Homo sapiens: one gene and its partners. The protein of the gene in region 4 purifies or fractionates together with the protein of the main gene of each other region. This does not show direct contact. Each region holds a gene or a part of one and is shown on either strand. Other genes may lie near its edges.

Region 1 (4,505 bases), on a different chromosome or scaffold from region 4:
TGGAGAAGGTGGAGAGTTTCACACTGATTATTGTAACATATAAGTATTTGAAAAGAGCCATTCTGTTAAAAGGGGAATCCAGAGTTATTTATTTTGCTATTTAGCCTCCCTATCTATGCATTAGCCATGTACAGGGAGAATTTATGGAACTTCTGGAAAAATTGATACATGATAATTACCTGTGCCTAATTTAGTACAGGCATGAATATGAGCAAGACAGCCAAACTATTTCATAATTGAAGAGTATCTCTTAGGAAATGAAAATTTAATTTTCTTCTGCTGCCACATTCAGTTTCTCAGTGGACAGGACCTAGAGGCCACATTTTCTAGTGAATATGGTTGAATTAGAATGTATAATATTTAGTAAGCATTCATTTAGAATTCTGTTAATATACTCCTAAATAAATTTGCATCCTCATAGAATTGGAGCATTTGGAAGCACTGCACTTAATTCATGGATTTAATAAGAGAAGCATTAACACTGTACTGAATTTCTCATTTTATCAAAAAGAATTCTTCATAAAATGCAAGAAAAAATACAAAATTAATTGTGAAAGGTCATTAGATGAGGGCCAACATAGACTAAATGTTTTATAACTTTAGGCCTGATTTACATAGTAATTTAAATTTAATCATTCATGTTCAAAAGTAAATTGTTCTTTGGAATTAAGGTACATTGTTTATATATTTAGTATATAAATGTCAATTATCATACATAAAAAAAAAACGCTTGGTAGGTATTCATTAACTACCTCTCCTTAAGAATAGACTTATAATGGAATATTTCTACATATATGTATTGTCACAGAAAGTTATGCATGCTAAATATCTTAGCCAAAAGGATTTGGGTTATGATTGCCTTGACTTTTGTATATAGACAAGAAAATATGTGGCTATATATAGCCATATGCAGAAAATTGAAACTGGATCCCTTCCTTACACCTTATACAAAAGTTAACTCAAGATGGATTAAAGACTTAAATGTAAAACCAAAAACTATAAAAACCCTAGAAGAAAACCTAGGCAATACCATTCAGGACACAGACACAGGCAAAGATTACATGAGAAAAACATCAAAAGCGATTGCAACAAAAGCAAAACTTAACAAATGGGATTTAATTAAATTAAAGAGCTTCTGCGCAGCAATGAAACTATCATCAGAGTGAACAGAAAACCTACAGAAAGGGAGGAAATTCTTCCAATCTATCCATCTGACAAAGGTCTAATATCCAGAATCTATAAGAAAATTTACAAGGAGTAAACAATCACATTAAAAAGTAGGCAAATGGCATGAACAACATGACTCAAAAGAAGACATGTATGCAGCCAACAAACATGAAAAACAGCTCAACATCACTGAACATTAGAGAAATTCAAATCAAAACCACAGTGAGATACCATCTCATGCCAGTCAGAATGGCAATTATTAAAAAGTCAAGAAACAACACATGCTGGCAAGGCTGTGGAGAAAAAGGAACTTTTTTACACTGTTGGTGGAAATGTAAATTAGTTCAACCATTGTGGAAGACAGTGACTCCTCAAAGATCTAGAACCAGAAATACCATTTGACCCAGCAATCCCATTACCGGGTATATACCCAAAGGATTACAAATCATTCTATTATAAAGATACATGCACACATATGTTCATTGCAGCACTATTCACAATAGCAAAGACATGGAATCAACCCAAAATGCCATGCCCATCAAGGACAGACCAGATAAAAAAAAAATGTTGTACATATACACCATGGAATACTATGCAGCCATAAAAAGGAATGAGATCATGCCCTTTGCAGGGACATGGATGGAGCTGGGAGCTATTATCTTCAGCAAACTGACACAGGAACAGAAAACCAAACAGTGCATGTTCTCACTTATAAGTGGGAGCTGAACAATTAGAACACATGGACACAGGGAGGGGAACAACACACATTGGGGCCTGTCAGGGGGTTGCGGGGAGGGAGAGTATCAGGATAAATAGCTAACGCATGCAAGGCTTAATACCTAGGTGATGAGTTGATAGGTGCAGCAAACTACCATGGCACACGTTTACCTATGTAACAAACCTGCACATTCTGCACATATATACCAGACCTTAAAATAAAATAAAATATAAAAAATAGAAAATATATGGCTATATATTTATAGTTATATATTATGAATATATAACATGACATGCTATATAATAAATTATGACATAACATAATATTCCATATTATGAATATATTATAAAACAATTTTCCAGGCAAAAACTCCATAGTTCCAAATAGATCTCCTTCACTTACATAACAAACTATCAGCTAAGTTTTTAGAAACATTGATATTTACATAAAATGTAATCCTTAAATGATAATTCCTAAAATTAGAATAAATATGAATGGGTTAATCAGTTATTAATAATTCATCTTTAATACTAATAACTCATTTATCACCTTAATGCTCACAGTAATTAATCATACTTGAACAATTTTCTTAATATGGAATGTGTTTTAACTGTACTTTCACGTACATACATACGTATATATTTAATCTGTTTTTATTGATATGTCTTGTTTTCTAGACTAAAATTTACATAGTATGCTAATAAACATGTTCTACGTGTTTACTGGCCTAGTTTTCCTACTAGGTTTTAAGGTATTCAAGGATAGAATAAACATTTTCAGTTCAGTTTCATTTTGTAAACACTTACTGTGTTCTTTCTACAGGAAGGAAAACTGGCTCTACCCTAGAACTTACAGAAAGAAAACTAGCCCTACAAAAAGATAATGTTATTATGGGATGGTAACAAGTAATAACAGAAAGGTGTATAAGTGAAGCAAAAATGAGGGTAACTTGCTCCAGGTAGTTCCATGGGAGGCTTCAGAGAAGAACTGGTTCTAGAGGTGTACCCTGAAGGCTAAGCAACACTATCTTGGGAAAGAAATATGAGGAGGGCAGTTTAGGCCAATGCAAGAACATAAGTGGAGATTCAGAGACATGAAAAGAGCATGATGTACGTGGCATAATCACAAGTACATGGACAGAACATGCTACAACATGCTTGATGTGGTGAGTGGCCAGAAATGGGGTTGAGAAGGGGATGGCATTCAGGACATCAAAGGCATTGTGTGCATCTTATTCTTTTAGCCACAGGGAGAATTTTGAGCAGAGTTGCATCTTCCTGCTAATTTATGGTTGCATCTCAGCACCTAGCACAGTGACTTGCTTGCAGTTCTTCTAGCAATGTCAGAGATTGTTTCCTCTCCAGTCATAATCAATCTTAAGTGTTAATAAAATACAGAAGACTGTCAATGCAAATGATATTCAGACAAAACAGATAGATAAATTTTCTAAAACAAAGACAAGAACACTGAATTATATCTGAAACTAGGTCTCGATGAATAGCACCGAATGAACCAATAAGTGAGCATGTGTCTACGGGAAGGACCACATGAGTATGAAAGAAATGACTATGAAAGAATACTAAAAAGAAGAAAATCAAAGAAGAAGGAGAAGGAGAAAGAGAAGGAGAAGAACAAGAATAAGAAGAGAGTGGCACAAGAATTATAATTCGAAAGCAGTTCGAAGAGTTTTTCTGGGTCAGATTTTCATTGATAGCCCATCGTCCATGCTGTGGGACGGGTGACACAGGAACCTCATACCTGGGCAGGTATACTTCTACTTTTTGCTTCTTCACAGAGTTTGCCCATTCTTCAACCAGCTGTGCTTTGACTAATGGCTCCAGAGTAGCAAGAGGAACTTCCTGTCTGGACAGCACCAGCATCATGCTTATTTCATCTCCTTCATATGGTATTTCTAGGACTTGGTAGATACCACCAGCTTCATTGGAGCCATCACTAAATTCCCCTAAAAAGAAAATAAAGGCCATAAAAGATGCCTATCAAAGCTTAAAAAAAGCTGGGGGCGAGAGATGAAAGACTACATATTTGGTATAGTGTACACTGCTCAGGTACTTGTGCAACAAAATCTCACAAATCACCACTAAAGAAGTTTTTCATGTAACCAAAAACACTTGTTCCCCAAAAGTATTGAAATAAAATCTAAAAAAAAATAAATAAAAAGGTTTAAATTTGTTATATATGTTTCTTCCCAAATAGTATATAGAATATAAAGAAATTCAAGCATCTGATAAAAAGCAGGTTTATTTGAAAATAGGCCCTAAAATTCAAATAAGTTCACAGCCCTGTATAATTTATTTTATTTTAGAATCCACAGAATTATTTCACATTTATAATAACATGTATTCAAGACTTGATTTTTATTTTTAAATGAGATAATTCAATATATCTGAAGTGTAGCATTAGAAACAATGAAAAGCCCTGGTTAGAAAAATAAAGCCTTGGCTCCAAGTTGACTGCAAAGCACATTGATCAATATTCACCTGATTTTTAAGAAGGGAAAATTTGACCATTTAATACCTGGCACTTTATTATCACAAAAACTACAAGTTTTAAAGCAAAGTTTGCAGAGTCAAAATGAAATCTAAGCATTGTATAATATTTA
Region 2 (4,505 bases), on a different chromosome or scaffold from region 4:
GCCCACTTGAAACACTAAGGTTGAAACATGAAAGGTTGTACCCAGGGCACAAGAAACAGCAGACATCCTGGTGCCATAAGGACATTTATCTTTTCTAGAATCCACTCTCTGAACCTGGATGTTTGCATTGATAAGACGTTATGTTTTCTCCCCTTTCAAATGGCACTTTGGAGATAAGTGATAGTCGTATCCAGCGAAGATCAGTCAGAGCTCTGGAGTCACACGGCCTATGAGCACTGAATCTGAACTCCACTAGTACCAGCTGTGTGGCCTCAGACAAATTTGTGCCTCAATTTTCTCATCCATAAAATGAAGATATTATTAGCCTCCCTTATAGGATGGCTCTAAAGAGTTAACTAACTGCTGCAATACTTACAACTCTGTTTGGCACATAATAAATCTGCAGCAAATGTTAGATGTTGTTATTTCATTATTACCGCCACTGCCTAATATTGTGTAGTCACTCCAGATTCCAGATTTAGGTTGCACATGATTATTAACATTATATATAGGAAATAGTTTAAATAAGTTTATACAGATACTCAGATCATGATCTAGAAAAAAAAATGTCATGAGTTATAATAGCACATAGCATTTCACTTAAAAGTGAGTGCAATTTAAAAGATAACAAGTCAGTTTCAGTGGCGGCATGGACCCACAGGGATTTGGCTGCCCTGCTGGGGGCTAAGGGGACTGTGCAGGGAAAAAAAAAGAAATAAAAGATAACATATGAGGTGGTTTTGAAATATTCCATGGTTAACTCTAACACTGCAACTACTGAACTACTGTTCCAAAAGCAAAGGACAGGGCTTTACCAGTAGAATTCACACTTGCCAATTTTTTTTTTTGTTAACATTCATCTACAAAATACTGTCTTCACTTAGCATAATGTATTAAATCTTGAAATTTCCTGCTTTGGTCAGAAGTCAGTCTGGAAGCGTTCTCTGAGCCAATCCCTCATCAGACCTGTTGAAGGTCTGTGAGGTAGGACAGGAAGAGGTCTGTACAGGGTATTTTAGCTGATGTCTAAGGAACTATAGCCCAGCACTAACCTAAAAGGTCAAGGCTAACTTTCAGGTCTCACCTCAACATAAACGTGTCCATTCTCTGGCACAGAGAAGACGCCCTGGGAGGGCACCAAAAAGAGGTCAGTGTTGTATAGCTCCATGTTGAAGGTGATGTTTCCGTGGGGCTGTTCCTGGAAGCTGCTGGGGTTCCTCACCTGCTGAAGGCTGCAATTAAACTGGAAATAACAACCCACAGGAAGATTAATGACAGTCATATGAAGGATGAAGGCCCTGTAGCTTCATGAGCTTTGGCTTTTAACATCTGATTTTATTTTCAGATAGTCCCTAACTAAAGCCAACAAAATAGACAGCATTTTCCACAAACCCCCTACTGATAACAAACACATACCACCACGATTTCAGGTCGGGTGAACAGGGAAGCATCTCCTTCATCCATATCTCCCGGAAATCCATTATCACCTGACTCCAGATCTTCATAACCATCTGGCCAACCACTACTGTCCCCAAGGGCTGGAACCTGTATCACAATCTAAAAGGCAAAGAAAGCACAGCCAATGTTATAAAAACACCAAACCATGTGTGTTTGGTTCTGCCTCACACAAACACTCATGTAATCATTCTGATGCAAATTGAAAATCTGACTTTAAGACAAAATAATAAAATAACATCCAGGCTTTTTCGAATTATATCTTCAAAGTGATGAAGAATAAGGAGAAACCCAATGCAGGTTCAAGTTAAAAGCTAAACTAATATTTGTATCTTCTCTTGTGAAAAATAAATATTTATGTTGTAACCATATTGAATAATTACAAATGATTTCAAATGGTGGGAAAACACTAGATACTAGAATGGAGTTGAATGGAGTTGTCAAGAGACTTGCCTATACCGTGAGAAGGGGCTTCCCCTTAAGAGTCTTTATATTATAAACTCTAAGAACTACTAGCAGTTGGCGAATACAAGAAGCTTTGGTTATATATATCCTTTAAGAGTTGTAGAAAGTTTGGTTGGAGTCAGCAGCGAAGGACCTAATGTTTGGTTATATATATCCTTTAAGAGTTGTAGAAAGTTTGGTTGGAGTCAGCAGCGAAGGACCTAATGTTTACTATGGAGCACATCTCTTCATTGCCGCTCTTGTACCCCTCTAACTTTTGCTCATTTCTTCCCTAAGAAATCTTTCTCTATGGTGTATGGATGTGGAAAAGAATACGTTTTATTCCAGGAATCTTTTTTTTCCACCTTTTTCGCTATCCACCTGCAGATATATTCCCGGAATCTATCTTGACATAGGTTGAAATTATGATTCCTGGATTATTTCTAAATAGGATGAGAAAATTCACCCAAGGGTCATGACGCCATAAATGAAATCCTAATTTCTTTTGCTTCACATGCTTGGATTCTGAACATGATGCAAAATAGAAATATATAGTAAGTCTGAAAATTACTACAAACAATTATAATTGGTGAGAACAGCTAAAACAGTCTCCAAAGGGAGTAGGATGGGAAGAAAATTAAAAAAAAAAAACAAACTGCCTTTCTCTCTGTACCAGGTCCTCCAAAGAAAGTACTGACGCCAATTAAAGGAAGCATCTAGGATATTGCTAAACTCAAAGATCATAATAAAGAAAAGAAAAATATGTGAGAAAAAAAGGAACTTTAAGGGATCATTACATGCCTTTCTCTCCTGAAGCAACTGACTTTTTTTTTTTTTTATTTTTTCTTAACAGACATATTACTGTAGCCACTTTTGGTGTTAACTTGGACCCCAGTTTTAAAATGCCATAATCAAGTATTTCAGTAATATATGACATTCATTATATCTGTAGACACTGGATAACTGAACGAAAATTCATGCTGCAATTATCAGGAGGTCAAAGGTTAATAAATTAATTATTTGAGTAACAAAAGGAGATTAGCAGGGCCTAGCCTGGTGTCTAGGAAAGATTAGTGGACAAGAGGTCAGGAAGTTGGATTCAGTCGTCCTGGCTCTGCCATTAGCCCATCCCTGGAGTTTAAAAAAGCAAGTCTTTTTAACTTCTTGGAGTTCAGTTTCCTCACCTGTGAAATGAAGAAGCTGAATAAGCTCATCTTAGGGTTATTTGCTGCTCCAACAGTCTAATATTCTCTGAGGAACAATATGCTTGGGTTCATGGGAGAGTCACTTCCCACAGGAACCACGCTGACCAGAGCACCTGATTGCTAGCCTCTCTTCTCTGGATGGGGTCGAACTAGCAGCCACAGCTCAGCCACCCCATGTCAAAGCTGGATATGGCACTAAGAAGACACCCCCCCTCCCACCCCAACCCACCCTGTGTCAAAGGTGGACACAGGGATCTCTGAGCCTTATTTTTACCATTAAAAGTAAAACCCAAAATGCAAAATCAGCACTTTAAAGTTCTTTTGGAACTTCACATTTTAAATTCTTTTAATATTCACTGCCTAGTCTCTGCACCCAAGAGAATGGGTTTAATCTGAAAAGATTTTGACCAACTGAGAAGAAAGATTTCTGGAAAATGCAGCTTAGCTATTGCAACGGTTTATCATTGGGGGAAATCTGTGGAATCTTTCTCCAAGTAACTTCAAAAGTAGGAGAGTTTCTTCAATGTATGGTCTTTCTTAGAGGTGGAGAGAGACTTAATAATTCCTTAAAGGTCCTTTTTGAGTTTTAAATTCTCTTTTTGGATTTTTATTCATGAAGGAGGGAGAAGTTCTCCTACTTCTGGACGAGACTCAAATGAGGCCAGAGAGACCACACATCTGGTTAACCCGGCTGTGCAGAGGTGCTGCTCGTTCATATAGCCCAGGGCCTTAAAATTTTATCCTTATAAGGGCCAGTTGAGCTTGGGCACTGAGAGAAGTCATAATCACCTTGACAGTGCAGCCTTTGTCATCAGGAGACGGAAACGGGGGGTGAGAAAACAGGCCTTCCAATTCCCAAAGACTCACCAATAAAACAAATAAAACCAAAGAGCTCAGGGTCAAAGTACATCCATTTTGTTGAGAACTGACACTTGGCTTTCTTCAGGCCTGGGGTGAAAACCCTCTTCATCTTCAAAGAAATGTTAAGACTAACTTTAAGGGAGCACACAGCCAGGCTCTGGCAAAGGGCAAAGCTTTGTTCTGGAAAACACTCACGGAGTTATAGTAGACCACACCATCAAGGGCTGACCACCGGGGCCGAGTACCGCAGCCATTCAGAGGAGACTCCAAAACAAAGTGTGTGCCATTCATCTTGGCCTTGCAGGTAGGATCCAACAGGGTGACGTCCATCCCCGAGTAGCCACTGGCCTAAAACAACAACCACCAAAGACATGGTTGGAGGCCCACAGGCAGTTCTGTTGTATAATTGACACAATTGACAATTGCCTGGTCTTCCAAGGACAGGCGATGAGAGGCCTGCATCGTGCCCCTTCCCCAAGTATCTCTTCCCAGCTGCCCACCTCTCAACAGCTCAAGGGTAGTATCTGTTGGCCTTGGAAA
Region 3 (4,505 bases), on a different chromosome or scaffold from region 4:
TAAAACTCAATTTTAACTATTTTTGATACCCTTTTGAAACTTCATTATCCACTTTCCTGAGTTATTAAACAGCATATGGATCAATGCAATCTTGGCTTGATGGCTTTAGGTGGTGACCAGTAACAGCAATAATCACAAGCAGCATTTGTTGTGTGCCCACTTCATGTCTGATACCATTCTAAGTGCTTTACTATCACATTTAAGCCTCAGGATCCAACAAAGTGGGTACTATTAACCTCATTTTACAAATGAGGAAACTAAAGTTCTGAGAGATTAAGTAATTTGCAGACGGTCACAAAGCAAGAGAATGGTAGAGGCCAGATTCAGACCCACGTTATCTGAGTCCAGATCCACCCTTCTAACCACTACATTGCTTCAAATGGATGGATCAGAGACAGGTAAGTGCATCCCAAAAGAGAATCGCCAGAACCTACTTGGGTGGAGAGAATTGCCCATAGATTGGTGTGATTTTTACATGTCTACTTTTAAAACAATCATCCTTTAGGTTAGCTGTCATTCTTCTATTATCCATGGTGCAATATCAGAAGAGCACACACATTTATAATTTTAAAGCAGCCCTTCTAGTCATCACATGTCCCTTCTCTGGGTGATCCCCTTTCACCCTTTGTATATACAGTAACTCACTCTCTTCTTCTCTCCCTTCCTTCTTCTTCCCCACTTTTCCTCATAAAGAATGTTTAACTGAATGATTACAAATGCCTGTGCTTCTTGGAGAGATCTTTATAAAGAAAACAAGATGTCCTATCAAGCTTTCCCCGGGTGTCTTTACAAAGAAGAAGATTTCTAAACCATGCCACTGGTAAGATTTTTAAAAATTACTATAATTGACTTAAAAACTACTTTGATCCATCGTTGGCTGAAAAAAAAAAAAAGAAAAACCACCAACTTAGTATAAGGTCAAATTTATAATAATGCAGAATTGTATGTTTTCTGTACTCTCTATTAGGGTCTGCAAATAGTAAGCACGGATAATTTATACAATTCTTTGGGGTTTTATTTAGGAGACAAACCATGTGGGAGACAATGCGCAACACTCACAGAAGACTGGGGCTTCCCTCTGCAACTCAACTCTGCCACTAGCTGGTGATGTGATTTCCAGAATGATCTTTGTGTCTTGGTTGCCTCTACTGTAAAATGAATGAGCTACCTCTCAGATCTCATTCAGATGCAATACCTTACGACTCGGAGCATACACTTAGTTTTAAAATCTGAGATTTAAAGTTATCATGGCATAATTTGCAGAGTTTGTGTAAAGGGCCTTTTAACAGATTGAGAGGTTGGGGGTGGGGATAAGATATAGTTCAATCACTGAACACCAAGCAAGGAACTAGGCTAAGAATACTGAGGGAAAAGTCAAGACTTATTTCCTCAAAGAGGGAATCTCTTCCCTAAACTACCAAACAGGTATCTTGTTTATTATTTTCGTCTACTTGGCGGGGAGGTTGTTTTGCCACTCGTTTCACAGTATCTCTGGAGCCCACAGTGGCTGTTCCTATTTTGACTAATCAAACCCTTCTTTGACCAACATACACAAGATTATAAAGAAAGAAATTTAAAAGACCACAGGTGCTTGACTGGGTTAGGAGGTATAACCAGGTTCCAGTGCAATTCTGATCTACCCTGTGTATTCAGCCCTCATCCCTCACACGGATCTGCAGGCATTCCTCCCCTCTGACCTTCGGACACATGCTTAAAATTCTCTTCAATGAAAAATTTGTACCACCACAGCTTATGAAATAATCTGATTCAAATATGTAAGTTCTTCAATGAATTCCAACCAATTCAGATCTCATACAAATGCATTTTGTGTAATACTAAGATAAATTTTTCAAGATGGTTTAGTTCATTAGCTCACCTAAGAAGTACAGATAGATGCATTTGTTTGAAAATATTTTTTAAAACCTCTTTTCACACTTTTAACTAGTTTCTAAGTCCCATATACATAAGAAGCTCCTTTATATGAATCCCAGTTGCCTTGATAAGAGGAAGACAGAATATTCTAGGAGAAACTATCAACAGCTTACAGAAAATGAAGCTGAACATAATTAACTACCCATTACTGTATATATGTATTTTTTTGCTTTTGTATATTAACAGTCAGCACCTACTCCAGTACTTAAACTGTTGAAAACTAACCTACTTGTTAAGGAGAGAAAAACCTTCACAAACACTCCATGTCCTCCCTGCTCTGGGGAAGGGCCTCTGGGTGGAGCAATCCCACACTAGCCTATGTTCAGTAGGGAATGTGTCACGGCACAGTGGCACAGGCAAGCAACCTAAGGATGTTGAAGCTTCTTGGGTCAGGTCTCCAAATCATGGCTTTTATTATTTTGTAAATATTATTTTCCACCCCAGAACTACCCATAAAAATAAACTGGAAAGTTAAGTGTCAAAATAAAAGTGTTTTGTTTTAACCTGCCAAGGCAGATTATTCTCACATCTGATCTTTACCAAAAGGGTATAAACTGTCAATAGTTAATATAAATTATAGGCTATATGCCTAAGGCTAGCATAAAGTATAATAAATGTGAATTTTAACTACTAGCCATCAATATGAAAATGTTCTTTAAATTCATGATTACACAAATAGGTCTGGAATAAAATACTAAAGTCTTGTTTTAGAACTGAGAGAAGAAAACTGTGACCCCACAGGTGCAGGGTCCTAAAGCCTTACATGACAAATCTAAGGCTGCCAGTCTGCACATACCCCTAACCCCCACTTAGGTTGGTGAGGATTCCAGCCTGAGAAGAAAGGAGTCCCCTCTGACAACCTGACTGTCTTTAGCCCCAGCCCCTATTACTCAGGTCTCCCCTTAATTTCAGAAAAACGAAAAAAAAAGTCATCCTCCAAATTGGATTAAGGTTCTAATCCTAAAGGACAGCACAGGCTAATTGAGAAAATGGGAGAGGTTGAGGGGGGGGCGGAGCGGGGGAGAAGGGAAGCTAAAAATGATTTCTGATTAAAAAAAAAAGTAAATGGACTATTTTTCTAAAACTTCCATGCTGCTATTTTAACTTTTGTGCTTCATTATTCTAACACTGCTTTTTAAAGCTAAGGACAACCTGAGTACAATTTTAAGATCAAACTCATGAAAATAAATATACACTATGTATGTATCATAAATCTCAGAGAAATCCCAGGGTTAATTTACAAAATTTTAACAGAGGTGAAGGGAGGAAGATCTTAATTCTATTTTGAAGTTTTACATCAAAGATTCATCATCCATCAAATCAGTAGTGGAAAGCATTTAACATTTTTTGTGAAGCATTCTGTACAATGACCTATTTGAAATTAACAGAGTATCTCCCCTAAGACACGAAGTTGTTAAAAATCTACTGCAGTACTAGTAACATAAATGTGCCATAGATATAAAAAATAGTATTGACTGACTTTGAACCAAGTACAAAATAACAGGTTGACTCAAATTACAATCCAGTCTTCCAACATGTTAGACTTGAGTGCACTTTCTAAATTTTAACTATAAGTGTTGGTGCATTCAGGTGTGATAGAGAACCTAAGTATAAAGAGAATTAGAAAATACAGGAACAGGTCAGGCATGGTGGCTCATACCTGTAATCCCAGCACTTTGAGAGGCCAGGCAGGTCGATCACTTGAGGTCAAGTTCGTGACCAGCCTGGCCAACATGGTGAAACCCCGTCTCTACTAAAAATACAAAAATTAGCTGGGTGTGGTGGCACGTGCCTGTAATCCCAGCTACTTGGGAGGCTGAGGCAGGAGAATTGCTTGAACCCAGGAGGCAGAGGTTGGAGTGAGCTGAGATCACCCCACTGCACTCCAGCCTGGGCAACAGAGCCAGACTCTGTCTCCAAAAAGAAAGAAAAGAAAACACAATGGTAAAGAAAAAAACTAAGGCAAAGATCTACTGGTTGATAACAAAATGTCCACAGTGGTGCCTGAAACTGAATCCAAATACGTAAAGTTAAAGTCCAGTGCCCTATTTACAATGGGCAACCACTCTTGCCTCTCTAAAGCCAAATATTTACAGCACAGTTTTTAGAACAGCATCATAATTTCTTTTTTTTTTCTTTTGGTTTACAAAGGAATATATCTGCCTGAACTAATCTGATGGAAAATCATAATCCATTTCTTCCCATTAGCCTTTGACTAAACACTAAAGCTAATTATGCTGGCTCTTTTGGGTTCTCACAGCAACAAGGAATTTTAAAGAACACATTTAGTTCCACTGCTTTATGCAAGACTGAGCGGTTTCAAAACATCTAGGTGCTAAGATGTTAGACAGAGACTACGTAAATCTCGTTTACACGGTTAATTAAGACCTTGTGATTTAGGCATACAGACAACATGGATCTACTGGATGGATATGCACACTGTTAATATGTTGTCCTGAGTCTGAGACTGCTACTGCCCCACTGGTTCTGCTCTGAATGCACTTGTAATCACTCTTGGTCAGTACCAACAGCTTAACATCTATGTATCTTTCGTATTAAAATCTTTTCCTCGG
Region 4 (4,505 bases):
GAGGCCACCAGATGTCTAAAGAAAACCCAGCCTGAAAGGCGAAGTTCCAAAGATAACATAAAAATGTCTAGTTGCAGCTGGGTGCAGTGGTGCACCCTGTAGTCCCAGCTACTCAGGAGGCTGATGCAGGAGGATTGCTTGAGCCAAGAATTCAAGACCAGCCTGGGCAACATAGCAAGACCCTGTATCTTAAAAAAAAAAAAAAAAAAAGATTGCATTGCATCTATAGCTAATTTTGAGAATAGACACCTTAATATTGAATCATCTAATCCATGAACAGCGTATATTGCTCAACTAATTTAGGTCTTTTAGAATTTCTCCCAGCAGTATTTTACATCTTTCAGTGTACAGGTTTTGTGCATTTTTTGTCAGATTTACCTCTAAGTATTTCATATTTTTGAAGCTATTGTAAATGGTGTCTTTTAGTTTTAGTTTCCAGTTTTTCATTGCTGATATGCCAGTACAAAGACAGCTACGGGAGTGTTTCTAGCAGCTCTGTTTGTAATGGCCTGAAATTGGAGACACCCCAAATGTCCATCAATAGGTGAACAGGTAAACACATGTTGTGTGTCCAAACGATGGGATAAATGCAGCAACAACCAAAAGGTATGCACTGCTGGGCACACAGGAACCTGCGTGAGTCTCAGAGGAATCGTGCGGAGTGAAAGAAGCCAGATGGAAGAGTGCATACTGCAGAATTCCATTTACATAAAGCTCTGGGAAAAGCAGCCTGAAGCAGATGAGTGGTTTCTTGGGGACAGGAAATGGATTCAGGGAGGAACATGTGGGAGGGGCCAGGAGGAGATTTTGAAGGAGACGGACACGGGCATCATCTTAGCTGTGGATGGTTTCATGGGTGCATATGGATGCCCAAAATTGTACACTTAAATATATACACTTTATTTTATGCAATAATACCTCAATGAAGCTGCTTTTTAAATTTAATGGAAGGTTTGCAAGAGCAAGTCAAAGAAATTCCCAAAGTAGAACCAAACGCTGAAGAAACGCAAAATACGGGAGAGAAAAGATGACAGCTAGAGGCGTAGAGGATCCATTCTTATCCGTGATCTTCTGAAATGTCATCACAATACAATCTGTTTGGCTATATGTGCTGTTTCATTTGTCTTTCTCACCATTCACTGAGCCCTTTGAATTGGAAGATTTACAACTCTCTTCAGCTCTTGGAAACATCCTTTCAGTATTTCTTTGGTAATGGTCTCTTCTCTGCCAGGCTCAGAAAAGATTGGGCTCAAGTATTCTAGAAGACAGAGGTGAGACAAGAAAGGACATTGTTAGAAATACCCAAATCTCCACCTTGGCCCCAAGCAAAAAGACAAAGGCCCCAGCAGACTCCCACAGTGGATGGGAAAAATAGTCTGGAGAGATTGAATCAAAGAATATGTGGGCTTGAGAACCCCAGGTACAGAGGAAGGCTGTAGAGAGAGGTGAAAAGAAGGGGAATGAGTCTCTTCTCCTACGTGTTCCTGAATGCTAGTGGCTGGGTTTAAATCACTCCAGCCAGGAGATTAGAAAATTATTCTCTGGAGCAATGGAACCATCCACAGGAAGATGTATATAGTCTAACCATTGGGAGTGCCCAGAAAAAAAATCTGTTTAGCCACTCACTTGTGTCCCCGCCAGTGAAGCCAGTTGTGGCAAGGCATGCACACAGAGCTTCCAAACAGCCGCCAGGAGCTTGTTTCTAAATAAAAATAACCACCAAGGATCCCCCAGCATTTGAGGAAAGTCTTCAACATGGAAGAAAAAGTCAAAAACAGAGAAAAGATACTCAATGGAAATATAAAGATGAGAAGGTTTTGCATTCATGGAACAAATACAAGATGCCATGAAAGAGGAAAATTCAAAGAAACAGAAAGCTCTTAGAAATTAAAATTTTGATACCAAAAATGAAAAACTCAATTGAAAGGTTAAAAATAATGAGATGGATAATACAGAGAAAGGATAAATAGAGGATAAATATAATAAGGATTAAGGAATGGTAGACCAGAGGAAATGAAAGGGAGACATAATCTAAAAAATAAGACAGGAAAATCACTTTGGGAGGCTGAGATGGAAGGATAGCTTGAAGCCAGGAGTTCGAGATAAGCCTGGGCAACATAGTAAGACCTTGCCTCTACAAAAAATTAGAAAAAAATTAACTGGACACGGTGGTGTACAGCTATAGTCCTACCTACTCAGGAGGCTGATGTGGGAGGATTGCCTGAGCTCAGGAGTTCAAGATTACAGTGAGCTATGATCAGACCACTGCACTCCAGCCTGGGCAACACAGCAAGACCCTGTCTCAAGAAAACAAAAAGACCCAATTCAAAGCACATTCTCAAGGCTTTCAAAGAAAGACAATGAAGTCATAAGTAAAAGATAATGAGTTTATAACATTATCATATTTCTCAAAAGCAAATTAGAAGCTAAAAAACAGTGGAACCCTCAAAATTCTTTCTTTTTTTTTTGTTTTTGAGACAGAGTTTTACCCTGTCACCCAGGCCGGAGTTCAGTGGCGCAATCTCAGCTCACTGCAACCTCTGCCTCCTGAATTCAAGCGATTCTCCTGCCTCGGCCTCCCAAGTAGCTGGGATTACATGCACGTGCCACCGCGCCTGGCTAATTTTTGTATTGTTAGTAGAGACAGGGTATCACCATGTTGGCTGGGCTGGTCTCGAACTCCCGACCTCAGATGATCCACCTGCCTCGGCCTCCCAAAGTGCTGGGATTATAGGCGTGAGCCACTGCACCCAGCTTGAGCCCTCAAAATTCTAAGTGAAAATTATTTGAAACCTATAGTTCTATACCCAGCCAAAGTTCCATAAATGTGTGAGTGTAGAATTAAGGTATTTTCAGAAACATGCAAAGTATCAAAAAATATTCTTCTCAGAAAGTATATGTTCATCTCTTCTGGGTCTTTGTGGTTAGAAAAAAATTTTTAAAAAGTATGTGTTCCACCACAATGAAGTGTAAACCAAGAAAGATGAAGAAAATGATCCAGGAAATAGGAGTTTTAACGCAGAAGGAGATTAAGGAAAATCCCAGGGCAATGGTGAAGGAAGTTCCAGACAACTGCTATGAGAAAGGACAGGCGGCTCCAGGACTGTGGCCCTCAGGAAGAACATGAAATAAGTTATTTAACAGATGTTACATGTAGAAGATTGAGAAGAGTATTGCAGAGCTCTCAGATTGTATGTAAAGATTTGGGTACAAGTTAAAAAGAAACCCCAGTCAATGAAAATTCACAGCAGGAAAAACAAAGACATATACAAAGAAAGGAAATATAATAGTGAACAATATTTTCACAGGCTAATAATGAAAACCTAGAGTATGGATATAATTTTTTTTAAACTCTGGGCCTGTAACTATTGGGAGGATGGGGAGAGAAAGGGTGGAAGGACACTAAAATCCACATTGTCATAATAGAAAGTCAGCCGATGTCTAGATAGATGAATCAAGAGATTATGGCGTTGGCATATTATTTAGAAATATAGAGACAGACTCCAGAACAAGCATTTTGAACACATTTTAAGTGGCCGTCTGGGGTGTGTTTCTGTGTGTGATATTAGATCAAGTCACAAATATGGCCAATTAGGAAACTAAAATTGGAGTTACAAGTATCCTATCCCAGTAAGGCAGGAGTGAGGAGAATCTTTCATGCAGTGAGTTGATAATGGGTAAATGTGACAAACCAAGACATATCAGCTTAAATTTACACTGTCGAATTACGAGATCACCACCAGAAGAATGACATCAGGAAACTGTCAAAAGGGCCAACACCTGTGGGTGTGGGATGGGCTGTTGCTTTTGTTGTGAGCCGTATTGAGTGGGCGTGAGGTAGTTAAACTGAGAGTGCCACAGTGCCAGGCCATGGTGCATCCCCAGGATTCAGGGCGGGCAGACGGCATGTGCTATCGGCAGAAGCCTTCGCCGGTCCGTCACTGGGTGCAGCAGACACCCCACCTGCCCCTCCGTATTCTGGCCCCTCATCATGGATACCCTTGGCAGGGAGGAACCCGGGGAAGTTGCCATCCTGTCTTTTGGGCGTTTGGTTTGCTTGCTTTTCCCTCTGTTGGGGCTGCGCGTGGGTGTGGATTCCCACAGTGGGCCTCTCACTGTGCCTTGAGGTCCTGGACTGGGGCTCCCAAGGTTAAACACAGAGCAGTTTTTTCCATGACAGCACCACCTTTTTACTTTTGGCTGGTTCACCATTGGCAGGGCAAGGCCGCTGGGTAGGGTGTGCAGTTGAGTGCTGGCCACAGGCTCCTGGGCCAGGTGATGGGGGGATTGAATCTGGTAGGGGCTGTGTCCGAGGGAGCAGGGCCTGCTCCTAGAAGTCTGCACAGGGGTACCAGTTGCCAGTCATGGGCCTGGGCTGGGGCCACTCTCCGGGGCACCCACCTACGTCAAAGGTGATTCACTGAAGGGGAGACCTGGATGACCGGGTTCGACAGCCCTTCATTGCGTTTTAATTTAAATGAACAATTCGTAAGCAATGATCGCCT
Region 5 (4,505 bases), on a different chromosome or scaffold from region 4:
AATATCTACATGCAGCTCAGGTGATTTGGGTAGTCCATGGTTACACTCTGACAGGTATTGAATGAAGTCTCTTGGCTGTGAAGTTCTGTGAGTACAGGCCTTTAGTCTATGTCCATCTCGCTGTGGGTTGCTTTCTAGAGCAGGGTCAAAAGGATGAAACTTACCATTTCCAGGAAAGGACTGGTGACAGAAAATTCCTTGCCCTGGGGTAAGTTTTTCTAATTTAACCATATCCATCCATCATAAGGACTTTAATGACCACATATTTATGGTCCTTTTTTCAGTGGTTAAAAATGAACTTCTTCCAAAACTATTTTTAATAGCTCATTTTGATATAGGCACAACACACATATGTGCACATGTCAAGAATAAATACAGATTGGCAAAGTTCCACAGCACAGAGAAACAATTAGTAAATCTGTTCCTTTTTGTTCCAAAGCTAACAATTAGAAAAAGCCCAGCTTTGACTAGAGTAATTTGTAAATGAAAATGTTTAGACATCATACGTATATTTGAGTTTCAATAGGCTATCATAAAATCAGGAATTATTCTGAGTCAATCTTTTCACGTGCTAGGTCTTCATTGACAAACAGAAGTAGATACATGAATTTTTTTTTTTTTTTTTTGAGACGGAGTTTCACTCTTGTCGCCCAGGCTGGAGTGCCATGAACGCAGCCTTGGCTCACTGCAACCCCCGCCTCCTGGGTTCAAGCGATTCTCCTGCTTCAGCCTCCCGAGAAGCTGGGATTACAGGCATGCACCACCACGCCTGGCTTATTTTGTAATTTTAGTAGAGACCAGGTTTCTCCATATTGGTCAGGCTGGTCTCCAACTCCCGACCTCAGGTGATCCACCCGCCTCAGCCTCCCAAAGTGCTGGGATTACAGGTATGAGCCACCACGCCTGGCCAGATCCATGATTTTTTTTAAGCCTTTCCTCTATGCTATTGGCCTAGTTGGAAATCATTCAATCAATCAGCCAATCAATCAATCAACCAACAGATAACTTAGCAAACAGCTTTTAGCCTTATTTCTACAGGCCTCAAAATGGCAATAAAGAGACCAAGTATCAAGCCTAGGTCCTCTGTCCCGTGGCAGGACAAGGAGGACATTTGTTGCATATACATGGATTTCCATGCATGGGGCTTATTTTTTGATTTTCTTCCCCATTAGGTAATAAGGGTTCAGTTGGACTACAGACAGAAAAACATGAAAACTAAATTATTTTGTGTCGGCCGAGCGCAGTGGCTCATGCATGTAATCCCAGCACTTTGGGAGGCCGAGGTGGGTGGATCACATGAGGTCAGGAGTTTGAGACCAGCCTGCCAAACATGATGAAACCCCGTCTCTACTAAAAGTATAAAAAATTAGCTGGGCGTGGTAGCAGGCGCCTGTAATCCCAGCTACTTGGGAGGCTGAGGCAGGAGAATCACTTGAACTCGGGAGGTGGAGGTTGCAGTGAGCCAAAATCGTGCCATTGCGCTCCAGCCTGGGCAACAAGAGCGAAACTCCATCTCAGAAAAACAAAAAAAATTGTGTCAAGTAAAGCACATATCATGGGTAGTTGATAACCCAAGGGTAGGTTAAGCTGCCTCTCCATATACTCACCAAGGGGCTGCCTCTCCCCAGATGCTGAGGCAACACCTTCAGGCAGTCCTCCTTGGGCAGCATCCCTGGTTTTTTTTGTTTTTTGTTTTGTTTTTTAACTTTTATCTTAAGTTCAGGGGTATATGAGGGTTACACTCCCCACCAACAGTGTATTATGTGTTACCGTATAACAAACCGGGTAAACTCATGTCACGAGGGGTTTGTTGTACGGACTATTTCAGCACCCAGGAATTAAGCTTAATGTCCATTAGTGATTTTTCCTGGTCCTCTCCCTCCTCCCACCCTCCGCCCTCTGCTAGGCCCCAGTGTGTGTTGTTCCCCTCTCTGTGTCCATGTGTTCTCATCATTTGGCTCCCACTTATAGGTGAGAAACATGCAGTATGTGTTTTTCTGTTCCTGTGTTAGTTTGCTAAGGATAATGGCCTCCAGCTCCATCCATGTTCCTGCCAAGGGCATCAGCTCAATTCTTTTTTTGTGGCTGCATGGTATTTCATGGTTTATATGTACCACATTTTCTTTATCCAGTCTAGAATTGATGGGCATTTAGGTTGATTCCATGTCTTTGCCATTATGAATGGTGCTACAATGAACATATGCATGCCTGTGTCTTTATGATAGAATGATTGAGATTCCTTTGACTATATGCTCAGTCATGGGATTGCTGGGTTGAATGGTAGCTCTATTTTTAGGTCTTTAGGAATCGCCACACTGTTTTCCACAATGGCTGAATTAATTTACATTTCTGCCAACAGTATATAAGTGTTCCTTTTTCTCCACAACCTTGCCAGCAGCTGTTATTTTTTGACTTTTTAATAATAGCCATTCTCACTGGTGTGAGATGGTATCTCACTGTAGACATAATTTTTTTTTTTTTTTTTTGGAGATGGAGTCTCCCATTGTCGCCCAGGCTGGAGTGCAGTGGTGCGATCTCGGCTCACTGCAAGCTCCACCTACTGGGTTCATGCCATTCTCCTGCCTCAGTCTCCCAAGTAGCTGGGACCAAAGGTGCCCGCCACCATGCCCGGCTAATTTTTTGTAGTTTTTAGTAGAGACGGGGTTTCACCGTGTTAACCAGGATGGTCTCAATCTCCTGACCTCGTGATCCACCCGCCTTGGCCTCCCAAAGTGCTGGGATTACGGACGTGAGCCACCGCGCCCAGCTGTAGTCACTATTTTTAAAGAGAACTTAGTTACCTTGCTCTCCTTTTCTCCCTCTGCTTCTCATGCCTTTGCCATACAGCATTCAAGGCTGTGGTCTTACAGGTTCCTTGTGGTTTGAAAATCTGAGTCACCCTTGAGACTGCACTCTAAGCGGGGAGAAAGTGGGCCCATGGTGATCTCTGGCAGTGGGACTGGGATGAAAGTGGTTTCCTTGAGGCCTGGGTGGACAGAGGTGTTGTTTGAATTTTTCCAGGCCCTCTACCTTCAGAAGGATAAATACTTTTCATTTTGAAATTTAAAACTTTTTTTCCTCTTTTTTTTTTTTGGCGGGGGGCGGGGGAATGTTCTGACTTAAACAGTCTCATCCTGTATTCTTTTTTTTTTTTTTTTTCTTGAGATAGTGTCTGGCTCTGTTTCCCAGGCTGTACTGCAATGGTGCAATTATGTTTCACTGCAGCCTCAACCTCCTGGGCTCACATGATCCTCCCTCCTCAGCCTCCCAAAGTGCTGAGATTATGGGTGTGAGCCACCATGCCCAGCCCCCTGTATTTTTAAAATTGGTTTTATACTATATTCTAAAGGGGCTTCGAAAGATTTAATGAAGTGGATTCTAATGAAAACATAATAAAATCAAGTGAACGAAAAGTCCATAAATAAACAACAAAAGGCCACAGCACTTAGATTTGTTCCCTTTCTGCTTTATGTGAAGAAGTGAATGGCAATGCAGGTGGCTTTGGAGTCAGCCAGATCTGGACTTAAATGAGGTGTCTACTACATAATAGCTTTGTGTACTTGGACAAGTTATATAAAATCCTTGAGATTGCTCTTCAGGGACTACAAAACAGAGAAAATCATACCTATTTCCTAAGATCTCTGCACATTAAGGCTATAAAAGGAGCACTGTGTTGGGCACATAGCATGTGCTCAATAAATATAATTTATTTTCTCTCAAATCACAGGTATGCTTGTGACTTGGCTTCACCCATCCAAAAGCAACCCTGTAAACTGGAGTGCTGGCAAGAATGGAAGATTTGGTTTTTAATGAGACTCTCTGCTGTGATTCCCATGAAGCAATCAGATAAGTCAACTTGCTGAGTAGACTCACTATGCAATACTTTATTTATAATGCATTATAGTTACTTGAAGATGCCTCTGCATTCTTGACTTTTTAGGGAGTAGAATGGACATTTCTTCTTCAACTTTATATCCTTTATGTATCCATTTACTTAGTTCCTAGTATGTGGTAAGTACTCAATAAATATTTACAGAATTGAACCAAAGACTTCCAACTGTTTCTAAAACAATCCAACTCTGTCAAAATGTTAAGACTGTCTACTACTGAAATTATTAAAACAGAAATGTCCTAGGCTTAGAGGCACTGAAAAGAAGGCTTTGAGTGGTTGAGATAATGGTGTAGCATAGGTTATTATTTTTCAGAAAATGATGTGAAACTCATGAAAATATCTGTCATGGTGATGAAATTGTACACTAACCTGTTCAAAGCTTTTACTTATTTATCTGTAAAATAAGTTAATCAGTCAATTCAAATAAATTCAATGTAATTTAATCCAATGCTTCTCAATTCAGCATTAACTGCTTTCTGGCTCCTTTACCAGAATTTTGAAACTCTATGCCTCCAGTTTATATTTGTTCCTCCAAATAGAGGCAAGATTGGGACCTCTCTCCTTTGCGGGTCCTCTCCGATGGGCTCCTACAGAACTTTGCTTATATCTCTGT
Region 6 (4,505 bases), on a different chromosome or scaffold from region 4:
ATTGTTCTTTAGGAAGGAAGCTCTGTATAAGGGAGGTCTTACTGAAGAATCTGACTAGCTTTTATCATGGAAGAATTGTTATGAGTGGACAGATTTTCCCCATACGAAATTCTGAATCATAAATCTCATATTTTTTTTTGGTAAATCATACTCTCTCTGGGAGTACAGCAAGAAGAAGCATGTATAAACAAGCATTCTTAGGGAGTTCATGCAAATAAGACCAGATCCTGTATATTCCTTTGTATAAACATCACCTAGAGAATTTTCCCTGCCATTATAGGAGAAGTCCAAAGGGAGGGCTTTAGGAGGCAATGGATGAACCTGGAGACATACTCCAGGTATTCCCTGTTGTATGGATGTGTCATGAAGGAAACCAGTCCTGCAGTACTGAAATCTGATTTTAATATTCACATAGATAATATCTTGAATATCAAGAGTAGCTGAACAGCCCTAGCCTTTTCTACACTGAGAAAATGCTAATTACAAGTAGCCAAGTTTTAAATTTAATTTTCCCCTTTCAAGTGCAAAGCACAGAAAGAAAACTCTTCAGCAGAGGCAGAGCCAACTGCTGACATCAGACTTAAGGGGTTATACTCAGTCCCAGCTTCATGGCATCCAGCCCATCTGTCTTTGAAAACCTATTAATCATCAGCTCAGCAAGTACTCACTAAGCTCTATTACCACTTGGCTACCCATTACATTAGCTACTGGGAATTTTTAAAGAGTTTGGCTATATTTGCTCCTAAAGCTATTTTTAAGGGATAAAACACAAAATATGTACATAAATCCCACTATTCAACAATTTGTTTTAAAAAAGTATGTGCATATGTGTATAAATTTATTAAGTTTAATGCTGTCACTCTTACTACTCTCTTGCATTCCAAAATGGTGTCTTGAGTAGAAACATGAAAGTAAAGGGCAGCGGGTGCTATGGTAAGTTCCACACAAGCCCAAGTGGCTCAGAGGGTTTTTTCTTGTCAAGCCATGTGAACATCTTCTGGAGAAAAAGCTGTGAATCACTGAACTGACGAACATATCGCAGTATGTCCCTGCTTGCAAATTTTATATATTGCAGTATGTCCCTGCTTGCAAATTTTATATTGAATCAAGACTTAAATAGTTTGACCTAGTTAATTTTTTGCAAGATTGTTTCTGACAGAGACATAGTAGTTACTCATGGCACTTGATGGAACTGTGATCTGTTCTGGAACCCCAGCCCCACTTCACTCCCTGGAGCCACATGCCCTTCTTACCCATGCACATGGTCTGGTCCTGAGAAGCCTTAAAGCCATTGTGGCAGATGCACTGGTAACTTCCTTGCAGATCAACACACAAGCCATGACTGCAAACGTTAGGAATTTCTAAACATTCATTGCGATCTAAAACAGAAAAAAATAAATGTTACATGTATCTGATTTTTATTAAGATTTCTTCATTTTTCACAGTTGTGTTTCTCTAATCTGCTATTAATTATTATAGGCAGGCTGAAAATGAACCATAACAACAGCTGAATCAAAATGAGCAGGACTTCAAAGTATCCAACCCTCTTTTTTTAATCATGCAAATTTTTTTATGTTTATTGGTATCTGAAGGATATTATTTTATTTTAGGTCCAATCCTGGGGAAATCCATTGAAGAGATCTATTTTCTTAACAAAATCATCTAAAAGATATGGTGAAATAGGTTCACTATAAATGAACAGGTTAAGTGAGAAAATCTTTCCCAAATTATTCTTGAAGTATTTTTTGATAGGAAATCTAAGGAATCTTGTGCTCAGTGCCAAAGAATGAGTCAGCCTCTTTCTTACCTACACAGGCCCCATTGGGTGAAAGTTTGAAACCCGCGGCACATTCACAGCGGTAACTACCAGGACTATTGATGCAGTCTGCATTCCGCTGGCAGAGATTATCACCATTGCTGCACTCATCTATATCTGAAAGAGCAACAATTCCATTTTAAAGAGTCCTTTTTAGTATTGTATTAGCATTACATTCACGTCACACTTTGATGATCAACTCTTGAAAAATTGTAGAAGAAATAGTAAAAATCAGAAACCATCTAAATGCTATATATGTATACCAAATTATACTGGATAAAGGACATACTTTATTCAGATTACCTTCACAAACCAACAGCAGGTCATTGTAACTGAATCCTGTAGGGCATTCACAGCGGAAACTGCCAATCTGGTTAATGCACACACCATTTGCACAAATGCCTGGAATCTCTTTACATTCATCAATGTCTGAAATGGAACAGATTTGGTCAAATATATGTTGTTCTGTTTAATATACTTACCATATAACTTTGAATAATGCTACATGTACCCTGGGATGAGTACAAATATTCAGTGTCACAAAAATCTATTATATACTAGTATAGCTAATTTTTTTGGTTTATAAAAACATATATACCAGAAAATAGAAACAGTGATGGAAAAAATCTAAGTAGCTGATAAAATATACCAAGTAATTTCAGAGTCAATATAGCAAATGAACTTTCTAGGCAATCAAACCCCTTCTTCAGGTTACCCTAAGTGCTGCTATTCATTTGTTTAAAAAGCTATGTTTTCATCATTGTATGTATTTTATTTTATCATATATTCATAATGGAGACTTAAAATTATATTGCTTAGGCCAGGTGTGGTGGCTCACGCCTGTAATCCCAGCACTTTGGGAGGCTGAGGAGGGTGGATCACCTGAGGTCAGGAGTTCTAGACCAGCCTGACCAACATGGTGAAACTTCCATCTCTACTAAAAATACAAAAAATTAGCCGGGTGTGGTGGTGGGTGCCTGTAATCCCAGCTACTCAGGAGGCTGAGGCAGGAGAATCACTTGAACCTAGGAGACAGAGGTTACAGTGAGCTGAGATCGCGCCATTGCACTCCAGCCTGGGCAACAAGAGCAAAACTCCATCTCAAAAAAAAAAATTATATTGCTTATCAAATCTTTGAGGAAGGAAGCTAGAGTGAGCAACACAATGTACATTTAGAAGGAATTAATTAATATGAAAAATAAGTCTGCACATTCATATTTAGACCAGTAAAAAGGGATACTGCAAAAATACACCAAAAATTAAAAAATGTACTTAAGAAAATAGCAACTAAAGGTTAAAATAAGGTAGATTATTTAGAGTCATGTAATACAATGTGCATGACAAGGACAACTGAAGCTTTAGCTTGGTGGATGTGACAAATATCGAGAGAGTCACATAACTACCATAACCCAATCACCAGACTACGCTGATGGAGTATCATTATTAATACTTGGTTAGAGTCTGTAAGCCTGTTATTTCTCTCTTATCTAACTATATTAGATTGGATCCCAGATTATTATATTTTGTGGTACTCTTGAATTTTAAAAACATAGAATAGATTTTTACAGAATGCTACACATATGTATTAAAACAAACATAATCTGGAAAAACTCACCAACAGCTTTTCCTGTGTGAATGTCAAAGGTGAATCCAGGAATATTTCCACATATGGTTTTAAAGTCAGCTTTAAAATATAAACAAAGCAATGCACTCTTAAATTTCTCAAATTCCTTCAAAATAACATTTTGTATTACTTTCACAAACAAATATATTTTACATTATTCACAACCAGACATTTTGATTTCAATTATATTTATTTGATAGCAATGCCAGCTTCTGCTAGGAGTGGATCTAGGCATTCTTTACCATTATTATCATTGTTATTTCTATTACTCTCATTAACTTTTTACTGCTCTGATATCAGAAGGCAAGTAAATCATTATAAGATTCAAAATGTCCATTTAGATATTTAAATACTTTTTCTTTTAATATGCAGAGCTTTAAAAAACATCCAATACATAAAGATTAAAAAAAAAGAGAAGTACAAATTGAAAAAGGAATTACAGATTGCACAAAGGTATAGACATGCAAAAATAATGTTGTAGAGGGGAAATAGGTAAACAATGTATAATGAATGAGATGCGAATTTTGTCTTTTTTTTTTTTACTGTGTCTATTGGAATGTGAAATTTGAGTCATCAAAAACAATGCATTATGAAATAAAATAGGGACTATAAGAAGTATTCTTACACATAATTAACCAAATCAATGGAAATTTAAAAGAATTCTAATTTGCAAGATGAAAAATGCTTCTGACGCTCACTGCTATACAAGTGAGTAAAACTCCTGAAAACAGTATTATATAAAACTTAAACTGCATACTATATTCCAAGTGCTATCAGGTCAGGGATATTGTATATTTCATCCATCAATATATACCGAGTATTGAGAACAGATAGAAAGACCACAGATGCTCAACTTAATGGTTTCTAATTGTCTGGAAATCTTCAAATTATAATTTATATGTATAATCTCCCTAATTGTCATTGCACCCATATGAATTAGTCACTGTAATTATTTATTATTCCTATTTTATACATGAGAAATTAGTTTCAGAAAGGATACATACTCTGCAGGAGGTTCCACAATAAGTATCTTAAGAGTTTTGATTTAAATACAGACACGTCTCT
Region 7 (4,505 bases), on a different chromosome or scaffold from region 4:
TGCAACTGGCAGTGCTGAGCAATCCAGGCCAAGTGGGGGTTATTAAGCAATCTCTCCTGACTCACATCTGATTTTCAGTGCCTCGCTGTATTTTGTGCACAACAATGGGAGGAAAAGTGTCCATCTCAACAACCTCCTCAATAATGGGAATGCATCCGTCCCTCCAGGTTTAAATACAGTTAACAAAAGAAAATCCAGTCAGCCAAGACACAAGGATTTCCTTAGAGCCACATCACAGCTGCACTATCTTTGTATAACTCTAAAACGGTGAGGCTATCATGTTTTACTTTTGAATATGTCCTAAAGATGTTCTACATTTGGAATTTCAAACTGATTGTTTGGAATGCCTTATTTACATACTTGAATGCACCACTTGCCTGTTCTGATGTATAATTTGCATAATTAGTAGACTATCTGTGATCTGACTTTAAACACCAAAGAGATTTTATAGTGTCTCAGCTACTGTCCTTCCTAGAGGCAGGACAAGGACTGGAAGACCTCCCAAGATCCCTTCCTGTCCAAAACATCCATATATGAGGTTGGCCTAGATAATAAAGAGTAGGTTTAAAGTTAATACCATTTCATCAGAAGCTCAGGAATTTATACAGCTCTATCCCACCTCCATACTCAGTGCCTCCCTATCACCATATTAATCTCAAAGCAAAATAAAAACATGGTTCTATTTAAGAAGAAAATTTTTATTTCTGCAAAGCTGAAAAATGTAAAGAGCACTATTACTTTACCTTCCCTGGATTATCAGACAAGGCCTGAGGCTCAACTTATAAAAATAAATTGTTTTCTGCATCTGGATGCTGATGAGACATCATGACTCAAGCTATTCCCATGCTCAGATTCCCAAGCACTCTGAGCCCTCTCTCATCAGTCACGAGGAGAGGAGAAAGTGCTGGACTACGAGCACAAAGGCCTGGCTCTGACACAACTGCTGTGTGACACTGAGCAAGTCCTGCCCTCTCTGAGTTTGTTTCTCCATCTGAGATGAATAGGGGGAGGTCTGTATTTCTGCATGGGTAGGAGGTATTATTGGAACAGACGGTCTCTATGGATTTTTCAGCTTGGGGTTTCTCGATTATTTTTAAAGCTGGACATGCCATCTGGCTCTGTCCATGCTCGGGGAAGGGGATCTCAGGATAGAGGCCTTGATTGGCTGATTCAGCAATTCTACTCAGCCTCATCACTAAATGAACTCACCAGGTTTCACCTCCACAGTGGTCCGGTCTGTGTCACTCTCACCCTTTGCATCGGTCACTTTCAGGTGAAAAGTGTAGGTTCCCTCAACCAGGTTTGAAAGAAAAAGGATAGGGTGATGGTCAGAGTGATTTAACACCTCCTGTAGGGTTGAACAACATGGCTATGTTACAGAACAAAATGCCATTCCTTTCCTGGAGTCAGTTGCTGCTTTCACCATAACTAGGCCCTTCAGGGCTGAACTGTTTCAACCTTGGGCAGTTCCTGATACGGAACAGCATTGCAGCCTACAACTGCTAGGATCAGGGAAGGGAAACCCATTCTGTGCTATACTAGCTTACAGAATGACCCTAAGCAAGTCACTTCACCTCCCTGGATTTCAGAGAACAATCTGGGTTTGATATAAGGGACCACTTGATTAAAGCATATACTGGAACGCGTGGCTCCTCCTCCTCCCCACTCCTGTGTAGCTCTCCAGCTCCTAGCACACTTACCCCTGCTGCTGGGCTCCCCTCATCTCGAGTCCAGAGGTAGCTGACTATTCCCTTGTCATCTGAGGACTTAGAGCCATCCAGCTCTGCTGTGCTCGTGGGTAGGGTAATCACCACATTCCCAGTTATCTTGGCTATAGGTGGTTTGTTTATTTCTAATCAAAAAGAAATCATTGACATAATGTGACATTCTGGAAAAGAAGAAATGTTTCTTCATGATGCTTATGGGGAAATTAAAACATCAAGAGTACCTTAACTGGAGAACCTTTTTAAGTGCCTGTCCCTGCCACCAACCAACAGTGTAGATGAAAGCTACCAGCGCTGCAGTCCTGAGGTTCCAGTCCTACCCAGAGAAATGTTCTCCTAACACTGTACAACAGAGGGGACGAGTGTGCTTTCCTCTCATATTCTCCCAGCAGCCTTCCCAAATGGAATCCATTTCTCTGCTTTGGAGGTATGTGATGATCAGAAATAACGGCCCAAACTGGCTTAAAACCTTGGAGTTTAGGTTTCACCTAGCTGATCTTGCAAATTCTCCTTCAAAATATCTTAAAATGTTATTCTCTGAATATCTTTTTGGACCCCTTCCTTGGAACTTCACAAGAGAAAACAAAGAGCTACCTCTCTTATTCGGAGCCCCACGTGAAGCTCTGTATATTCAGATGTCTGTGCAGTATTTACTCAGCTTGGTATCTTATGTCTGGAGGTCTGCATATCTGATGGTTTTTCCTGCTATCAACTTAAGGCCCTCAACTTAAGGCCCTCTCCCACAGCTCTCACTGGTCACTGTGCCTGTAAACTAGAGCAAGGCCTCTGGCTGGCCTCAGCTCAAAGGCTCAGGGCAAGCATAGTCAGCTGTAGTGCGGCCGTCATTCTCAAGCCTGACAGCAGGTGTCACTGTAGCTAACAGGAGTCACGGCCCAGGTCTCAGCAATGCAGAGGGGCAAAATAAAAATGCAAAGAATAGAACCCTTAATTCTTTCCCTATTCAACTGAGAAATAAAGTAAGGAGGGAAGGAGGGAGGACTGAAAAGAAAGTAAGGGGATGAGAGGGAAGGGAAGATGTAAGCAGGAGGAGGGAGGGAAGTTAAAATTCACCTTACAGTCCAATTAAAGGCTGTTTTAGAAAAGAAAATAACAATTGCCCTCACCCCAACCCTCTTACCCACCTCTTGCTATCTCTAATCAATTTCTGCAGGCAAACATGACAGGATAAATTCTTCAGCTATCTGACCCTAAGAGGCTGCTACACAAACTGGAGGCAGAGAGGTACCTTCTTTGACAATGACATTCACAGAGCTCTGGCTTTGCAGGTTCCTCTCATCTTTGACAGTCAAGGTGAACACATAGGTCCCCACTTGCAGCCCAGTCACAGTAGCAACACTGCTGTTAGCATTCTCGAGCTGCACCCCATCAGGTCCCCTGCAAAAAAAGAAACTAGAGGGTAGAGTTGTACCTGTCTGCTGCTGTCCTGTCCCTAACTTAGCAGGAGGAGACAATGACTCCCTCAGCAAAGACACGAACTACTGTTACCCAGACCTTGACAAGACATGTTTAAAAATATTTCAATTGGACAAAGTGTCATTTGGCCTCAAAATACAGGCTGCCTGCTGGTCAGAAAATTCAAATAGCTTTCAAACACCTCTAGCCTTATCCTTTATATGAGCTTCTAGAACACTTGAACGCTTTACCATTCTAGTTTGTAAAAGGAAGAAAGTTCTCTGAGCAAGTCTCTGATCAAAAGAATGATTTAAGAGTGATGTTTCTAAAAAGCATTTCTGGCCCAGTAGTTGGTTTGGCTCTTGCCAGCAAGGAAGCAAAATGCATTTCTTAATCACGTGCCCAAATCCTTCCTGATGAAAGAAAAGGAAATGGGGCAAGACTGCAGAGGAACTCTCAGGACAAAATCATCTTGTTTGTAGCAACTCTATAAGCAAAGTTCCCTCCAGCTCCTGGACAGGGGCCATCAAGCACCTAGGACACCCTACAACCCTTCTTCCCCCTTGTGGCCTCAGAGACTTGCCTGCAGCAGCCAAGGGAGCTCTGTGCCAACATTCAGGCTGCACACAGCCAGAGAGCCCTCTGCTCAAGGATCAAAATGCCCCAGAGCTTTTAACTACAGGAAAGCCAGAGAAATCTGCAGACATCCAGGATTTACTTTGTTTTGCCTTTTAAAGTTACAGCCTCTGATCCTGGTAGCTCCTCCTGAAGCACAGTCTCCTTCAAGAAGCTATGCTAAGCATTATCTCTGCTGTAAACACTAATAAAACTCAGCTAAAAGGTCTATCAGCCATATCTTCAATAAACAATTATAATTAAAAACACCCTGGGCTGGGTAAGATTATGTTCTACAAAAGATAAAAACAAGAGCTGAGGGAAATAATTTCTAGATTCCAACTCAGCAATCTCAAAAGCAAGTCATTTGTATAGTCAAATTAAAGTTCTTTTCCACCCATCTCCAATGCCTTTGTCAAACAAACAAACAAACAAACAAACAAACAAACACAATACAAAAAAAAACCCAGGCTGTCCTATGGTTGCTACCTTTGGAAACAGAGAATACTTTTAACTCTTCTTAGAATTCTTTTGCTACTTGTGGGATCCTGCATATAATTTCAGTTGCATTAGTTATGCTTTAAAGGAGCTAAAAGAAACTACAGGAACTAAGAATGGTTCAGTTAGGTAATTTCTATGTAATTAGAATTATTTTGATTACCGCCTTTGGCCTCTGGCTAACTTAATTGGTAAATGGTGTCTTCAAGAAAACAATAACAGAGTAATGCTTTCATTTTATGGATGTATTTTCAA

The links.
Region 1: the proteins of ST14 (region 4) and SERPINI1 purify together in Homo sapiens (affinity purification with mass spectrometry; one large-scale study listed by BioGRID and IntAct). This does not show direct contact.
Region 2: the proteins of ST14 (region 4) and TGFBR3 purify together in Homo sapiens (affinity purification with mass spectrometry; one large-scale study listed by BioGRID and IntAct). This does not show direct contact.
Region 3: the proteins of ST14 (region 4) and MAN1A1 purify together in Homo sapiens (affinity purification with mass spectrometry; one large-scale study listed by BioGRID and IntAct). This does not show direct contact.
Region 5: the proteins of ST14 (region 4) and SLIT2 purify together in Homo sapiens (affinity purification with mass spectrometry; one large-scale study listed by BioGRID and IntAct). This does not show direct contact.
Region 6: the proteins of ST14 (region 4) and FBN2 purify together in Homo sapiens (affinity purification with mass spectrometry; one large-scale study listed by BioGRID and IntAct). This does not show direct contact.
Region 7: the proteins of ST14 (region 4) and KIAA0319L purify together in Homo sapiens (affinity purification with mass spectrometry; one large-scale study listed by BioGRID and IntAct). This does not show direct contact.

What each region holds. Positions count from the first base shown.
Region 1 is NC_000003.12:167,793,963-167,798,467, reverse strand, and holds part of SERPINI1 (neuroserpin precursor), read right to left. Parts: intron 3,849-4,505; coding exon 3,644-3,848; intron 1-3,643. UniProt on the Homo sapiens protein: Serine protease inhibitor that inhibits plasminogen activators and plasmin but not thrombin. May be involved in the formation or reorganization of synaptic connections as well as for synaptic plasticity in the adult nervous system.
Region 2 is NC_000001.11:91,715,152-91,719,656, forward strand, and holds part of TGFBR3 (transforming growth factor beta receptor type 3 isoform a precursor), read right to left. Parts: intron 4,314-4,505; coding exon 4,161-4,313; intron 1,558-4,160; coding exon 1,417-1,557; intron 1,244-1,416; coding exon 1,085-1,243; intron 1-1,084. UniProt on the Homo sapiens protein: Cell surface receptor that regulates diverse cellular processes including cell proliferation, differentiation, migration, and apoptosis.
Region 3 is NC_000006.12:119,342,257-119,346,761, forward strand, and holds part of MAN1A1 (mannosyl-oligosaccharide 1,2-alpha-mannosidase IA), read right to left. Parts: intron 1-4,505. UniProt on the Homo sapiens protein: Involved in the maturation of Asn-linked oligosaccharides. Progressively trim alpha-1,2-linked mannose residues from Man(9)GlcNAc(2) to produce Man(5)GlcNAc(2).
Region 4 is NC_000011.10:130,183,352-130,187,856, forward strand, and holds part of ST14 (suppressor of tumorigenicity 14 protein), read left to right. Parts: intron 1-4,505. UniProt on the Homo sapiens protein: Exhibits trypsin-like activity as defined by cleavage of synthetic substrates with Arg or Lys as the P1 site. Involved in the terminal differentiation of keratinocytes through prostasin (PRSS8) activation and filaggrin (FLG) processing.
Region 5 is NC_000004.12:20,610,900-20,615,404, reverse strand, and holds part of SLIT2 (slit homolog 2 protein isoform 1 precursor), read right to left. Parts: intron 1-4,505. UniProt on the Homo sapiens protein: Thought to act as molecular guidance cue in cellular migration, and function appears to be mediated by interaction with roundabout homolog receptors.
Region 6 is NC_000005.10:128,303,704-128,308,208, forward strand, and holds part of FBN2 (fibrillin-2 precursor), read right to left. Parts: intron 3,501-4,505; coding exon 3,432-3,500; intron 2,246-3,431; coding exon 2,120-2,245; intron 1,934-2,119; coding exon 1,808-1,933; intron 1,380-1,807; coding exon 1,254-1,379; intron 1-1,253.
Region 7 is NC_000001.11:35,448,658-35,453,162, forward strand, and holds part of KIAA0319L (dyslexia-associated protein KIAA0319-like protein), read right to left. Parts: intron 3,135-4,505; coding exon of another isoform or gene 3,120-3,134; coding exon 2,971-3,119; intron 1,853-2,970; coding exon 1,701-1,852; intron 1,349-1,700; coding exon 1,210-1,348; intron 1-1,209.